Regions from separate parts of the Homo sapiens genome. Here region 1 is linked to region 2. Evidence: fine-mapped expression QTL. Tissue or cell type: minor salivary gland. Region 2 holds a variant in brackets; the other region holds the start of a gene. All regions are shown on one strand. Distances are from middle to middle.

Evidence for each region. PIP is the estimated chance that this variant, and not a neighbour inherited with it, causes the effect.
Region 1: ZBTB49 starts here. The variant in region 2 is fine-mapped to the expression of ZBTB49 in minor salivary gland (GTEx, PIP 0.92).

Annotation. Positions count from the first base shown.
Region 1 is chr4:4,286,852-4,294,954 of GRCh38, reverse strand. It overlaps ZBTB49 (zinc finger and BTB domain containing 49), which reads right to left and starts at 4,704. Exons shown (of 8, transcript NM_145291.4): 1 at 4,603-4,704. It overlaps LYAR (Ly1 antibody reactive), which reads left to right and starts at 4,801. Exons shown (of 10, transcript NM_017816.3): 1 at 4,801-4,919. RefSeq lists enhancers at 5,776-6,313, 6,314-6,852.
Region 2 is chr4:4,321,366-4,329,468 of GRCh38, reverse strand. It overlaps ZBTB49 (zinc finger and BTB domain containing 49), which reads right to left. Exons shown (of 8, transcript NM_145291.4): 8 at 7,686-8,103. Among named protein-coding and RNA genes, the nearest start is that of ZBTB49, 35 kb to the right of the region's middle. The variant C/T (reference allele first, on the strand shown) is at 3,480.

The DNA of each region.
Region 1 (8,103 bases), 35 kb after region 2:
TTATGCTATGCTATCGCCCACGGGAAAAAAGACATTAAACACACACACACACACACACACACACACACACACACACACACACGAAACCCTCCTCCACAGACCTGTTAAAATTAGGTAAAAATGTCTAATTATACAAATGTAAATGTCTAGGTATATTAGGTAAATGTCTAATTAGAAAATTAGACATTTTCTAGCTCTATAGAAGTGATAAAGGAAAAAGTTATTTGGAATGACCCCCAGAGTTATGATGCTAGGCAGTTATTAACTGTTACACAATTTACTTTTACTATAGGAATTAGAGGCTGGGTGCGGTGGCTCATGCTTGTAATTCTACCACTTTGGGAGGCCGAGGCAGGCGGATCACCTAAGGCTACGAGTTCGAGACCAGTCTAGCCAACACGAAGAAACCATCTCCACTAAAAATACAAAAATTAGCCAGGCGTGGTGACGCATGCCTATAATACCAGCTACTCTGGAGGCTGAGGCAGGAGAATCGCTTGAACCCAGAAGGCCGAGGTTCCAGTGAGCCGAGATTGCACCACTGCACTCCAGCCTGGGCAACAGAACGAGACTCCATCTCAAAATAATAATTATTATTATTCCATATCATTTTGTATAGTTCTCTAAATTACTTCATGATGTCAATCCTGTACCTCCCCAGTAAGGTTATAAAAAGGTCTGGAAACCCCAATAAGGTTATTAAAAGGTCTGGAAACCCCAATGAGGTTATAAAAAGGTCTGGAAAAAAAATTGTATCTTACATTTCTTATGTGTTCTGTCAATTATAAACAAAAATGTATCTTATACCTAATAATAGTAATGATTATGACAAATACTTATGTTTCCTAGATGCCAGGCACTATTCTAAGCCCTTTACACTTATTAACTCATTTACCATAAGATAGGTGCTACTATTATCCACATTTTACAGGTGAGGACAATGAGGAATTTGTCAGATTTAAGATGGCCACAAATTCTCCGATGATTCTCCCATGGGGTAGTGGAGTCTAGGTCTCCTTCCCTCCTGCACAGGCTCTGCCTTAATCAGATTCTGTGCTACAAAGCTGTGCTCATTTCCCAGGCCCAGGCCTTTAAAGAGCTAACAGCTTCCACTTCCCATCTTTCAGAACAGTGGCTATGGAAGGCCTGAGCCACCTGTAAGATGCCCAGCTAGAGAGAACACATGGAGACAGAGAAGGGTTCAGCTGGCTCCCAGGAAAGCCATCCTGACCTCTCCAGGCTGGCCCCTCCTCCAACTGAATGCCACTGAGTGATCCCAGTTGACACCACATAGAATTGAAGAATTTCTCAGCTGACACCTGCCTGAATACCTAACCTGCAGAATTATGAGATAAAATAGTTTTTGAGTCACTAAATTTGGGGGTAGAGTGTTACACAGCAACAGAAAACCTGACCATATACAGAGAAGATGGTCACACAGCTAAAAATAGGTAAGTAATAAGGGACAGAGGTGGGATTCAGAGCCAGGGAATCTGACACCAAAGCCGCATTCATAACCACTGTTTCCTTTGATCGGAATCAGCTGCCTCTTCAGTCTACTGCCTATGCCTGATTGTCCAGGTAATCCCACAGACAAGCTTTGCATTAAGGAACTGCACAATTCAGGACTAAGATGTGCTACACAAGGTGTTATAGCGTGAGAGAAGGAGCAGAAGGTTCTCTTCCATCTTTGCGACTAACTCACCTAGTGACAAGCAGTAAAAATTTTCTGTGGTGAAGACATGGACTCCATCTGTCTTATTGAACAATGTATCTCTGGTGCCTAGCAGAGTGTCTTTGACATAATAGGCACTCAATACATATTTCTGGATGGATGAGACTCTGGGCCTCAGTTTTTCATCTATAAAAATGGAGAGGTCCCCTATTGGACTAGATGATCTCTTTTAGAGGTTTTTTCCTAGTTCTAAAAGCTACAAATCTATACAAGGAATGTGATGGTGGAAAGATGGTATGAATGGCGTCAAAAAATGAAAATATGGGGGGAAAAGAAACAAGAAAAAGTTTAGATCAATGTGAATGAAGAAATGCTTCTAAAGAAAACAACAGCCAGAATGGAATTTCAACCTGCAGAGAGGACTCCTAGAGCAAAGGCCCCTCAATTCTACCAACAGGTCAAATACTACTGGATAGAATTTGTGGATGTTTTTTCAGCAGTGCCATTAATAGATTACTTCTCCAAGGGCCCACAGTTCACGCACCTTAAAGTCAAGCTTACCTCAGAGGGCTCCTAAGGAGTCTGCCCATCATCATACTTTCCAAATGGCTTACTTGTAGCTCCTCACCTCCACCCTACTCATAAAAGCACTGGCTTGAAGCAACAAACCTGGAATCTTGTCTTAGCTTTATGCTGACTCTTATCATACTGGGAAGGCCAATTGGGTTAAACAGATACTGTGTGCCTAACATGTGCAACAGATTGTCGCGAGGATGGAATGCTGACAAACGGAACAGATGTGTTCCCTACTCTTCACAGGCTCTGTGTCTCAGTTTTCCATCATTCACTTAACTTTACACAATGCCCATTATGCGCTAGGCACTGAAGGTACGATGGCAAACACATCAGATACGGTCATCCATGTCTTCATGAAGCATCAGTCTAGTGGGAAAAACAAGTATCGTTGCACTGTACCAGAGTTATTTTTTATTTTTTTCCGAGACGCAGTCTTGCTCAGTTGACCAGGCTGGAGTGGAGTGGTGTGCTTTCGGCTCAGTGCAACCTCCACCTCCTGGGTTCAAGCGATTCTTCTGCCTCAGCCTCCCGAGTAGCTGGGATTACAGGCATGCACCACCACACCCAGCTAATTTTTGTATTTTTAGTAAGGACGAGGGGTGGGGGTCTCACCATGTTGGCCAGGCTGGTGTCAAACTCCTGACCTCAAATGATCCACTCGCCTCAGCCTCCCAAAGTGCTGGGATTACAGGCATGCGCCACCACACCCGCCTAATTTTGGTACTCTTAGTAGAGATGGGGTTTACAGGGTTTCACCATGTTGGCCAGGCTGGTCTCTATCTCTTGACCTCAGGAGCTGCCTGCCTCGGCCTCCCAAAGCGCTGGGATTACAGGCGTGAGCCACCGCACCCAGCCCTGTACCAAAGTTATTAAATGGAGGAAGCAGAAATTAATTTGGGAGGGAGGGTCAGGGAAAACTTCCTGGAAGACACATCTATGCTGAAATGTGAGTTAAGTTTGCCAGACTAAAAAAATGAGAGGGCTCACTTTCTTTGAGTATTCAGGAGGACAAACAAACAAACAACAACAACCAAACCCAAAAACAGTACGAGAGCACAAACAAGACTGAAGTACACATATGTGCCCTGAACACAAAAAACATCTTGAGCACCCTGCTTTTAAGCCTCCTGGCCATTCTGTCACTTCTGTTGGAAAGTATTTCCCTCCTTGTCCATTTCTGTGAATTCCTTCTGTTATGGTTAAACTGTTCCCCCAGCACTCCAGAATGTGATTGTATTTGGAGATCAGGCTTGTAAGAAGGTAATTAAGTTAAAATGAGGCCATTAAGGTGGGCCCTAATACAACCTGACTGACGTTCTCATAAAGAGGAAATCTGGATGCAAAGAGAGACGCCAGAGATGTGAAAACACAGAGGAAAGACCATGCGAGGACACAGCAAGAAAGCAGCCACGTGCAAGCCAAGGAGAAATGTCTCAGAAGAAACCAAACCTGAAGACACCTTGATCTTGGACTTCTAACCTCCAGAACTGTGAGAAAATAATAAATTTCTGTTGTTTAAGCCACCCAGTATTTTGTTTGCAGTCCTAGCAAACTAATACACCTTCTATTCCAGGCCCAACACTGCTCACTTTCAGAGTGAAACCTTATCACCCATATACACACACCTTGGGAGTGAAGGTTTCTCACAATACTCTGTGCATCCTCCACTCAACTTTCATTCATTCATTTAAGCAACAAACACCTAGTGACCACCACTGTGTGCCAGACCCTGTTTTAAGGGCTGAGAAGAGCTAACGTTTATTGAGTACTTACTAAGTGGCAGCCACTAGTCTAAGCGATTTACATGCACCAACTCATGAAATACGACAAGGTTCCAGGGACGCAGGTGCCGCTATGACATTCGCTTTACAGATGCGGGGCTGAGGCACAAAGAGGCCACACCGTAATGAAACTGAGCTAGGCTGTGGGCTCTGTCGTCTTAAGCGCTACTCTCAACTACAGCGTGGAAGGAAACAGAAGCCGAGAGATGGGCAGCGCGTAGCGGAGGCGGGCCGGGCTGGCTTCCAGCGGGCAAAGCCTGGAGATGAGAGGGCGCGGGTGGGGTTTCCAGGCCGAGGAAGCTGCACCAGGGAGAAGGCCCGGCTCCCAGGCCCGGAACCTGGCCGTCTGGGTCTCAGTCCGCGTCCCCTGTGATGCCCGGCACAGAGCAAATGCTCGCTGACTCTCGCAGGAGCCGCCAACCCCCCGGGTATCCTCGAGTGCCCAGAGACGGGAAGGAGCGGTGGGTCCATGCCCTTCTGGGCCACCTTCGGGCGCCCGGCCTCCCTTCCCTTCCGGGCCATTCCCACCAGCGCCAGCCCCGCACGCCTTCGCAAGGCCGGCCACCTTACCCTCGGAGGCCGCTCTCTGCCCCGCCGCCTACTCTTCACCTGCAGCAGCTGCCTTCAAGGCCACTCGCAGCGATCCGCTGGCCGCGGAATCATCACGACAACGCCCCCTTGGCTTGCCGGAACCGCCTTCCTGCTTCCGTTGGCGTCACTTCCACTGGGGGGGGCGTGGCCGCGGTGCGCAGGCGCGCTGGGTGGTTCAGAAGCGAATTCTGCACCGCGAAGCCTGAGAGGCAGGTAGCTGCGGCGCTGGGCTGGCGGCGGCGAGTCCACGTGCTCCCCGCGGCCGGTTGAAACCGTTGGCGGGCGCTGGCTGAGAGGTGAGGGGTGGTGGCCCAGAGGTCCGACCTGGGAGGCTGGGGCTCAGAGAGTGAGTAGGGGAGGGACGGGATTTCCACCGTCAGCCCCTCTGGGTTACGCATGGAGGAAGGAGTTCCATTCAGATCTCACTCCTGCTCTGGGGAAGTGGCAGGAGTCCTGGACTTAGGGTGACCAACTCGTTTTAGTTTTAAAACTTAAGGTCCGGCGTCCTGGGAACTCCCTCGGGCCTGGCCAAACCAGGACGATTGGTCACCGCCCGACTGGGCTTCAGGCTTGCTGCATGTTGGAGACAGGGCTCTTCTCTGAGCCTTGGGAGATCAGTCCCTAAAGAGGAGGCCTTAGGATGTAGCGGTCCAGAGCACATACTTAGGATCAGAATAACTACTGCGTGTGAATCTGGGTTGCCACTACCTGGATGTGGGATGACCTGGTGTAAGTTTTTTAACCTCTTTGCGCCTCACTTTCCTCATCTGTCATAACATATAGAATCTAACTCGGAGAACTGTGATGAGGATTACATGAGTAGAAATGTGTTAACCTCCTATGAGAGGGCTTGGGTGCTCCATGAATGTTAGGATTCTCTGAAGCACCTACCTCTGAGGAGAGAGGGAGGAGGATGAGGTGGGGTCTGTATTTGCAACCCTGATTTCTAGCAGAGAGGGCCCACTTGGGACTTACTCACACTGTGCCCGAGGCTCCCAGGGTCTAGCATAGTGCCTGACACATGGTAGTTACTCGAGTGAAGGGATGGTGTTTAAAACAGTGCTGGTGATGCCGTGGGTGGGGTAGGAGGCAGAGAGAAATGGCTTCTGTGCCTCAGTTTGCTCATCTGTTTAGTGGAGATAGGTGCACCTACTTCCCAGGGCTTTTGCAAGGAACAAGGGAGAGATTCTCTCCTTGTGAATGTCACCCATTGTAACCCTTGTCAGCCTCATACACAAAGGTTTAGGCAGGATGGTGGACAGAGTATGTTTGTCTGTCCTTCTCTTGCACCATACCCATGGTTTCTCAGAATGCTACCCGTGGAAGGGGCTTGAGTCTTGTCAAGTTGGCCTGACTTCTTGTTTCACAGATGAGATAACTTGAAGTTTATAGAGGCAGTGGCATGCTCAGGGTCACAGTGTTCAGTGGGGGATATCCTGGGGTTGCCAGCTAGGCCCCTCAGGTGGGCTGTTTGAGTGGTAGTGGTGGTAATGATGTGTAGGTCAGTGTCTGCATGTGCATGCAAGAATATTTTAAGAATAGTCAAGGCCAAGCGCAGTGGCCCGTGCCTGTCATCCGAGCACTTTGGGAGGCCGAGGAGGGTGGATCACCTGAGGTCAAGAGTTCACAACCAGCCTGGCCAACATGGTGAAACTCCGTCTCTACTAAAAATACAAAAATTAGCCGGGCATGGTGGCATGTGCCTGTAATCCCAGCTACTGGGGAGGCTGAGGCCGGAGAATCACTTGAACCTGGGAGGCAAAGGCTGCAGTGAGCCGAGATTGCGCCATTGTACTCCAGCCTGGGCAACAGAATGAGACTCCGTCTCAAAAAAAAAAAAAAAAAGAAAAAAAATTGAATAAGTAATACAAAAATATAGAGGGAAGAAGATTTAAAAAAAATCATTCCAATCTCAGAACCAAACCTAAGGGCATGTTATCAGGGAACTTGGTAAAGTAGGCAGCCATGGGGTGAGGAGCCAGAGAAGGTTGGAGTGAATTTATGAACATAAATGGGTGGGTTGATGGTCATATTTAAAGGAGCATGGGTTTAGGAGGGGGCTGGGTATAATAGCATTGATGTGCAAATTAGTAGGTCACAGAGAAACCTTTCTACAATTGGGCAGGGATGAAGCTTTCATATCTGGTGTCTTATTTAACTTTCCACCCAATGCTTTGAGTTAGGTATTAGATCCATTTTACAGATAAACAGATTCTGGGAAGTTAAGGTGCTTTGAGGTCATTTAGTTTTTAATGACTTTTTTGACATTAGCAGATGTAGGCTCCAGCTCAGATCCTCTACACCTGAGTCAGGGCCCTGTCCAACAAAAGCTGGCAACCATCTTGTTAAGAGAAGACTAACAAGTTCCCAGCCCCTTAGTGACCACTGGCTGCTGCCCCTCAGCTAGCTTTGCTGTCCAGACCCTGACAGCCTCTCCTGTGACATGGGTGGTCTCCTTGCCCACTGCACAGAGGTTTTATAATTAAGACTTAGGGTTCTAATATTTATACATGGAAAGTCATCTTATAGAGACCTTAATTTTTTTTCTCTTTGGATGAGGACCTCAAGGTCCCAGGTGCTGAGTAACCACCAAGCAAACGGCTAGGACATGGCAGGTCAAGATGGAGGCAGGGTGGGAGCCTGGGCTTGCTGCCTGGTCTTTCAGGCCACCTCTGCCACTTACTGTGACTTCGGGCAGTTCACTTACCCTCCTGAGCCTTAGGTTTTCTCTCCAGATGGAGGTAGTATGATCATAGCAGTCTTAGTGGTATTGGGGGCAGTTGTGTTCATAAATGGGACACGGCTTTGTAGAGAGCTAATGATCATGTGTTCTATGGTGCAGACCCCGTCATCTTTTTCATGGGTATGGCATGTGATGAGAGCTCAGTAAACTGACCATACAGACAGACGAAGACGCAGCCAGGAGCACACGCAGAGGACCTGCGTGAGGGCCCCAGGTGTATCTGGGTGGATAGGATAGTGTCAGCATTCAGGAAATGTCTGCCGAATTGAGTTAAAGTGACTGAGCAAGAACCGAAGTATGCTCTCAACCAGTCCAAGAACACTGCCTTCTGCCTGCCTTTCTCTTTTAACATGCGCATGTGGCCAGAAGGAAAGCATGTAGAATCTCTCTGGCTGCGCTGGGACTGGACATTGGGCAGAGGGAGTTGGGGAGCCAGGGAAGGAAAAGAGGACTCTATTTAGATCCAGCCCCATGAAAAAACTGCTGTCTTTTTACACTTAGGGCTAGATGTTGAAATCTGTCACATCTGAGCCCGGCAGACTGGGTGTCCTCAAAATCTTAATGCAGTTTTAAGCTTTCATAATTTCAGAAGCATAAATGATCCAAACTTGCCAAAACATCATTTAAAATTTAATTAAGGCCGGGCGCGGTGGCTCACGCCTGTAATCCCAGCACTTTGGGAGGCCGAGGCAGGCGGATCACGAGGTCAGGAGATTGAGACCATCCTGGCTAACACG
Region 2 (8,103 bases):
GGCTGAGGCGAGAGAATTGCTTGAACCCAGGAAGTGGAGGTTGCAGTGAGCTGAGATTGCACCACTGCGCTCCAGCCTGGGCGACAGAATGAGACTCCATCTCAAAAAAAAAAAAAAAAAAAAGAAGCAGCTGAACTGAAGCAGCAGCCCCAGAACACCAGGCTCTGTAGTTGCTGCTCCCACTTCTGTGGCAAGAAGCGGCATGAAGGAGACTGTGTTCCATTTTGAACTCTGCTCTACAGGGGAGCTGGATTCAGCTTCAGCCCGTGGGTGTAGACTCTGGAAGCAGCCACCTGGACACCAGCTAAACTCATGTCATCCTCACAGCAGTCCTGTGGGATAGGGCTACTTGGCTGTTAATATTATTTATTGTGGTAAAATACACACAACATGAAATTTACTATTTTCACCATTTTAAAGTGTACAATTCAGTGGCATTTAGTGTGTGTACAAGGTTGTGCAACCACCCCCACTGTATTAGTCTGCTCTGGCTGATATAACAAGATACCGCACGCTGGGGGGATTACGGTTTTTTTCTCACAGTTCTGGAGGTTGGAAGTCTAAGGTTTAAGGTGCCAGCAGGCTGGCTGTAGTGGCTCACACTGGTAACCCCAGTACTTTAGGAGGCCCAGAAGGGAGAATCGCTTGAGGCCAAGAGTTTGAGATCAGCCAGGGCAACAAAGTGAGATCCCATCTCTACAAAAAATAAAAATTAGCCAGACATGATGGCATGTGCCTATAGTTTACTAAGGAGGCTGAGGCAGGAGGATTGCTTGAGCCTAGGGGGAGGCTATGGTGAGCCAGGAGTGCATCACTGTACTCCAGCCTGGTTGACAGAGCAAGACCTTGTCTCTTTGTTTTTTTTGGTTTTTTTAAAAAAAAAAAGGAAAAAAAGGTGTCAGCAGCATTGATTTCTGGTGAGGCCTCTCTTCCTGGCTTGCAGACAGCCCAGCCTTCTCTCTGTATTCCCACATGGTCTTTCCGCATGTGCAGAGAGAGGCAGAGAATCTGGTGTCTCTTCCTTTTCTTCTAAGGACTCCAATCCTATGGAGTCAGGGCCCCATCCTTATGACCTAATTTAACCCTTATTACTTCCTTAACTGCCCCAGCTCCAAATACAGTCACCTTTGGGATTAGGGGGTTCAACATGTGAATTTTAGGGGGAGGGGGAAACAGTCCAGTCCATAACAACCAGTCTCTAGTTCCAGAACTTTTTCATCAACCCTCACAGAAACCCAGTGAGCAGTCAGTCACTCCCCATTCCCTCTCCCCCAGACCCTGGTCACCACTAACTTACTTTCTGTCTCTGTGGATTTGTCTGCTCTGGACATTTCATAAAAATGGGATAATAGGCCGGGCGTGGTCACCGAGGCCCCCCCGGGAGCTTGGCCAAGTTCACGCTGCTGTCAGATGCGGCGCCTGTTGGGAGCTGGGAGGTGGGGCCCCGGGCTGGGTTGCTCCTAGGGCAGCTCCAGCCTGAACGCTAAAGTCCAGGCCACAGTCAGCTCAACAGGGTGAAAAATACTTGACCGACTTCCCTTCTCAGGACACGCGCCTCCAAACCGGGGCAAGAGAGAGTGCCACTCTCCAACGGGCCCCTGGGGGTCGAAGGGGAAGGTCCCCAGTGTGCTTGGTCAGCTGCCCAGGGTTGCAGAAATGCTGCCCCTGCTGGTGGCCTTAACACGGGGAACAGCCGGGCCACGTCTCTGCCTGTTGCCAGTGGCTATGTTGTCATCTGGCGGCTGGAAGGAAACGCTGTAGCCCTGGGAGTTCAGGGAAGAGGGGCTTGGACCGAGTTCCTCCCGCCTGCTCAGAACCATGTGGGGCCTTCACAGACGTCCTGAGCTGAAGGAAAGTGACCGGAGTTTCACAGGGATTCAGAGTCAGTGTCGAAACACACGTTTTCTGACAAGGGAAGGTGTTTATGGCAATTTGCTACATGAAAGGCGGATTACAAAGTAGGTTGTACGGTATAAGCTACTTTGAAAAGCGTTCGCAGGGAGAGGTGGCTCACGCCTGTAATCCCAGCACTTTGGAGGCCGAGGCGGGCGGATCACGAGGTCAGGAGATCGAGACCATCCTGGCTAACACTGTGAAACCCCGTCTCTACTAAAAATACAGAAAAAAAAAAAAAGAAAAAAGAAAAGAAAAATAGCCAGGCGTGGTGGCGGGCGCCTGTAGTCCTAGCTACTCGGGAGGCTGAGGCAGGAGAATGGCGTGAACCTGGGAGGCAGAGCTTGCAGTGAGCCGAGATAGCGCCACTGCCCTCCAGCCTGGGGGACTGAGTGAGACTCTGTCAAAAAAATAAAATAAAATAAAATAAAAACCTTCAAGAGTCTATATTTCTTTTTGTCTGATTGCAGAGGGAAATGTCTGATAGGAAATAAACTGAGATGTGAACAGTGTGCCGCCGTATCGGATTGTCAAGGGACTTCACGAGAGAACGCATGCGATGCATGAAGGCCTTTTTTCCTTTTTACTTCTTTGTATTTTCTGATATATTTTCCTGTTGTCCATGTATTATTACTTGAGTAATTTAAGAAAAAAGAAGTGGCTGGGCACTGTGGCTCACGCCTGTAATCCCAGCACTTTGGGAGGCCGAGGTGTGAGAATTTCTCGAGTTGAGGTGTTTGAGATCAGCCTGGGCAACATAGTGAGACCCCGTCTCTACAAAAAAAAATTTAAAAATTAGCCGGCCATGGTGGTGCATGCCTGTGGTCCCAGATACTCGGGAAATTGAGGTGGGAGGATCACTTGAGGCCAGGAGTTCCAGACCAGCCTGGGCAACATAGTGAGACTCCATCTCTACAAAAAGTAAAAAAAAAAATTTAGTCAGGCATGGTGGTACTTCCCTGTGGTCCCAGACTATTTGGGAGGCTGAGGTGGGAAGATCACATGAGCATGGGAGGTTGAGGTTGCCATGAGCCGTGATCACCACTGCACTCCAGCCTGGGCAACAAAGTGAGACCCTGTCTCAAAAAGTAGTTAAAATAATAGGGAAGAATGCAAGATGCTCCTGGAGCAGGATGGGTGATGAGTATCATGAATACAATAGCAGTAGGTGTCTCTCCAGATCCATCACAACCCGGCAGGTGAACCCTGCGCTCCATTCCAGGCTGCATCTGATCCTGGCTTGGGGCTTGCCACCAGGTCATCCTGGAACTTTGGGACCCAACTCTCCTGGCTAGGTGGTATTGGGCAAGTTCCTTGACCTCTCAGGGAGTCACTTTCCCCAACTGTCCGTGGGGTAATTATGAGATACACCTTACAGGGCTCTTATGAAGCTTGAGTTGACTTGCAGAGCGTTTACCATTGTGCTGGCACATGATAGACACAATATGTCCTAGCTACTGTTATTATCCAGCAAGTCACTTCACATTTCAGGGTGTCTGTACAATGCGGGATTCACACTAGATCAGCATGCCTTCAAGTACTGTCCTTGCACTCCCTGCCTCAGAATCATCTAGAAAACCAGTTAA[C/T]TGCAGATTCCTAGGCCTTGCCCCAACCTATAGAATCATTTCCAAACATCTGCATTGTCAACAAGTCTTCCAGCTGAGTCACAAAAGGTTGAAGCCCATGGAATAGGGTACAGTTGCTAAGGTCCCTTTCCACTCAGACATTTTGAGATGCTGGGGGTTTTCTGATGATCTGCCCAGCCTCTTGGCCTCTGCTTCCAACTTGGTAATGGAAGCCAGGTCTTGACGCTGGAAGGTTCTACAGAAACCTAGCCATGGGCCATTCTTAGAAAATCATAGAGCTCTAAAATGGAAATTCTGTAGCCATTGCATGTCAGGACACTGAAGACCAGTGAGAAGAGGGCATTTGTCGCACAGTCAGCTAGCGATGGAGCCAAGAACACAGTCCTGGTGTCCTGACTGGGATAAAAGGTGTGTGCACACATGCGGGAACACACACGCACACACACACTGTTATTCTTGCTGTGGATGGCCCATGCTGTGTCTACAGCACAAGGTCAAGGTCTGGTCCGCTGTCAGATAATTTGCTGTCCAAGTTTGCACTCATGCATATGCAAGCCTTTTCACCTCTTCTGAGATTTTCTTTCTTTAGGATAAGGCTTTGGGGCCAGGGTAACAAGAACAGAAAAGGAAGAGACAGGAAATGTGAATGAAAAGGGCTTTGGGGTTTTGGTTTGTTTGTTTTTGGAGACAGAGCCTCATTCTGTTGCCCAGGCTGGGGCGCAGTGGCACTATCTCAGCTCACTGCAACCTCCGCCTCCTGGTTCAAGCGATTCTCCTGTCTCAGCCTCCTGAGTAGCTGGGATCACAGGCACCTGCCACCACACCCAGCTGATTTTTGTATTTTTAGTAGAGATGGGGTTTCACCATGTTGGCCAGGCTGGTCTTGAACTCTTGACATCTACCCACCTCAGCCTCCCAAAGTGCTGGAATTACAGGCATGAGCCATTGAGCCCAGCTGAGAGCTTTGGTTTTAATGCTATTCCCTAAAGTTTTATTCTACAAGAGCAAATTATTGTCCTCATCAAGCAGATTTATTCAAAAATGTGACTTGGCCTAGGGGTCTTGTTTTCTGAGCCTTTGGCAAATCCAGCACCTGGCATACAGGAGGCACCTCCATACTTATACTGATGAAGTAAGATAACTCTTAAGGTTTTTAGTCTGAGTAAAATCCTGGAGGAACAGGATTGCCATTTAATAAGGTGGCCATGAATTGAGAAGACAAGGAGCTTGGTCTTGAAAGCTCTTAGTCTGGGGTGTCTGTGAAGACGCTGGTAGGCAGCTCAGGACAGGAATCCAGAGTTTTGGGAGGAGTCATGGGCAGACAGTATTTAAGGTCATGAGATGTGAGTGTAAGAGTTAAATAAAGAGGAAAGAAACATGAAAAGCCACTCAACAGTCAAAGATAGGTTATTTTGGAAAATAAACCTGAGAGGGGCTTCTGGCCGACTTAGGTCAGAGGCCCTCTCTCTTACAAAATAAGAGTATTTAAGGGTTCAGGGTGGGAGAGCTTATCACAGGCTCGGAATGTTTCTGTGTCTCTTTGTCTTGCTTATCTGGGAGGGAGAGTTTTTGCATCTGTTCCCACACATCTTCCTGCAGCTGCAGGCATACCACCCGAGTTTGCTTTTAGCTTCCCTATCTCAGCATGCCTAAAGGGAAAGAAATGTGCTTATTAGGGCCCACTGTTTTACTGGGGCCCATTGTATGAGGGTGAAGTTTGGTGGTTACGAAGAGACTTTCCCTCCTCCCTCTGTGCTCAAGCTGTCTTATCTGTGTTTCATTGTCTGCTCTTCCTGGCTGCATTTCCTTGAAACGCATGAGGTTAGAAAGGGAGCTGGAACTTTTGGAGTTGTTTGTCCAAGATGACAGTGCTCCTGCTCTGTCATTGAGGAGATGGCCTAGGGACAGAGCCAAGGCCGGAGAGGAGGTCCAGGGCCTGTGTTCTTAAAGTTGGGGCACCCCAACTTTAAGATGTGTGTTGGGGTAGGGGAAGGAGTCCAAGACAGAGCCACCCGTGCATGAAGGGGAATCCTAGCAGGAGTGGTCCTCTTGGTTGTTGTTTCAAGGAGAAAAAAGGAATGCACTTGCTGCCGACGTGTCATATCCTGCCTCAGAGTCATTAGGAAGGGGACTGAGAATTCTCACTCGGTTTAGCAATGGGGAGGTCGTGGGCCACCTGGGCAAAAAGTATTTCAGTGGAGTCTGATGAACAAGGTTCAGGAGAAAAAAATCAATCAATCTAGGAGGTCCAGTATTTTGACTAAAAAGTATTCCAAAGACATTCATTTGACTATTTGTTACTGAGCATTTAGGGTCAGGCACTGTTCTGGGCACTGAGGATAAAGCAGTGAACAAAAGAGACACAAAGAGTTTATATCCTGGCCAGGCTCGGTGGCTCATGCCCGTAATCCTAGCACTTTGGGAGGCCTAAGCGGGAGGATTACTTGAGCTCAGGAGTTTGAGACCAGCCTGGGCAACATAGTGAGACTCTGTATCTATTTAAAAAAAAAAAAAGAAGAGGTTACATCGTAATAGGGGAAGATTATATAGTAGGTCAGATGGTGATAATAAGACTTAGTGAGAAAAAGCAGAGGTGGGAAATCAAGGGGTTGGGGGCAGGTTGGTTTTAGATGGGAAAGTGCAGAGTCCACGGGCACAGATGTGGGGAGGTAGGGAGGTGTTATGGGAGCTTGAGGAATGTTCTTTCCTATTTGTTTCTTTTTTCTTTTCCTTTTTTTTTTTTTTTTTTTTTGAGACAGCCTTGCTCGGTTGCCCAGGCTGGAGTGCAGAGGTGCGATCTCACTGCAACCTCCGCTTCCCAGGTTCAAGCGATTCTCGTGCCTCAGCCTCCTGAGTAGCTGGGACTACAGGCATGTGGCAGTATACCTAATTTTTGTATTTTTAGTAGAGATGAGGTTTCACCATGTTGGCCAGGCTGGTCTCGAACTCCTGACCTCAAGTGACCCACCTGCCTCAGCCTCCCAACGTGTTGAGATTACAGGTGTGAGCCACCACGCCTGGCCCCTATTTGCTTCTAGGTTCTGAGAGAAATAGGAAGCAAGGCCATAAGGAGGAGGACAGGCGAGCTGCAGAGGTCTGAGAAGATGTGACACAAGTGCCTAGGGCAGCACGTCGCCTGGATCAAGGAGAGGGGATTGTAGGATACGGCGGGGGCTCAGGAGAGCTGTAGAAACTAGAGAATGGCTGTTTCTCACCAGCCTGGCTGGGCTCCCTGTGTGTAGTGCTGGAGGTTCACCAGGTGGAATGGATAAAGGGGTTGGTGGGTGAACCATGGCCAAGGAGGGTCCACAGGGACAGCTAAGGGGATGGATGCACTGTAGGTGCTGGGAGGCTGAAGAGCTACACGAGTTGGGATGAGGGAGGAGCCAGAGGAGGCCATGAGAGGAGAGGACATGGGGAGGAAGGAGGAAGATCTGCACTCACGTGCGGCCATTGTGTTCCAAGTTCACTCCATGTGTGCAATGGGGACAACAGATGCTCGCTGAGCCAGCCTGGCAGAAGCGTAGTGCAGCTGATGGATGGGAAAACACGAAATGCACCTGTAATGGACTTCAGAGCTGATGCCCTACTCTGCAACTGTGCTGTTTTTCTATGAAAATCCTCTCCTCCTCACTGGTCTCTCGTTGAGTATCTTGTACTTCTGAGTTAGAGCTGCTCACGAGTATTCGAGGGTGCTCTCCACACAGTCCTCCGTGTAGGGTGCTCTCCAGTCTTCCGTGCAGGCAGTGCTATAAGCAGATCACCTGTGACGTGCCACATCCCCAGTCTCACCTTGATATTCCAGCGACAGAGCCACGGGCACATCTCCTTCCTGCAGAGGCTGTCAAGCCCGCTGGGAAGGGGAAGTAAATATTTAGAACGCCCTGTCAAGGGCCAGGCGCCGGGCAGGTATTTTCAAGTGAGTGCTCAGATCAGACAAGCCTTGTGAAAATACTGGAAGATGTTCCTCTCATACTGCAAAAAAGAAACTCCAGAGAAGATCCTGAGAGGGTGAACAGCTCACCCATGACCTTGCCAGTAAGTGGCAGCCAGGAGTCAGGCAGTTCTGACCACTGAGAAACCCGCTGTACCAGGAGGGAGACTGACCAATGAGGTTCTTATCCTTGCAGAGTGAGTCCTCGCTGCTATTTATTTTTATACCCCTATAGTCTTTAGATTAATAAAAATGCTAGAGGAAACATATAATATATAGAAAAGTTTCATTTATTCGAATTAAATTATGGTATGAGTTTCATATACAAATAAATTCTGTGTAAATAATACAAAATGCTACAAATTTCAATCTTGTAAAAATGCAAAAATACTTGTAATACTATACATATATAATTCCTTTCACATGACCAACATGTACAGTAGTTGACACGATGCACACGCGCTTCCCCCCCACAGCTGAGGCTGCTGAGACAGCATCAAGCCTTCGCTTCTGTGACGTCAGCGCTCCCTCCCGCGGCTGCCTCACGGTGAGCCAGCAGGCCCTCCCCCTCACACCCCCAGCTCAAGATGCTTCAGATTATGAGCCATCATCAGGAGGGAAGCTACCTATTCTCTGGCTAGTTAGAAGGCACTGTCATGGGGAAACTGGGTCCTCCTACAGCCTTAACAC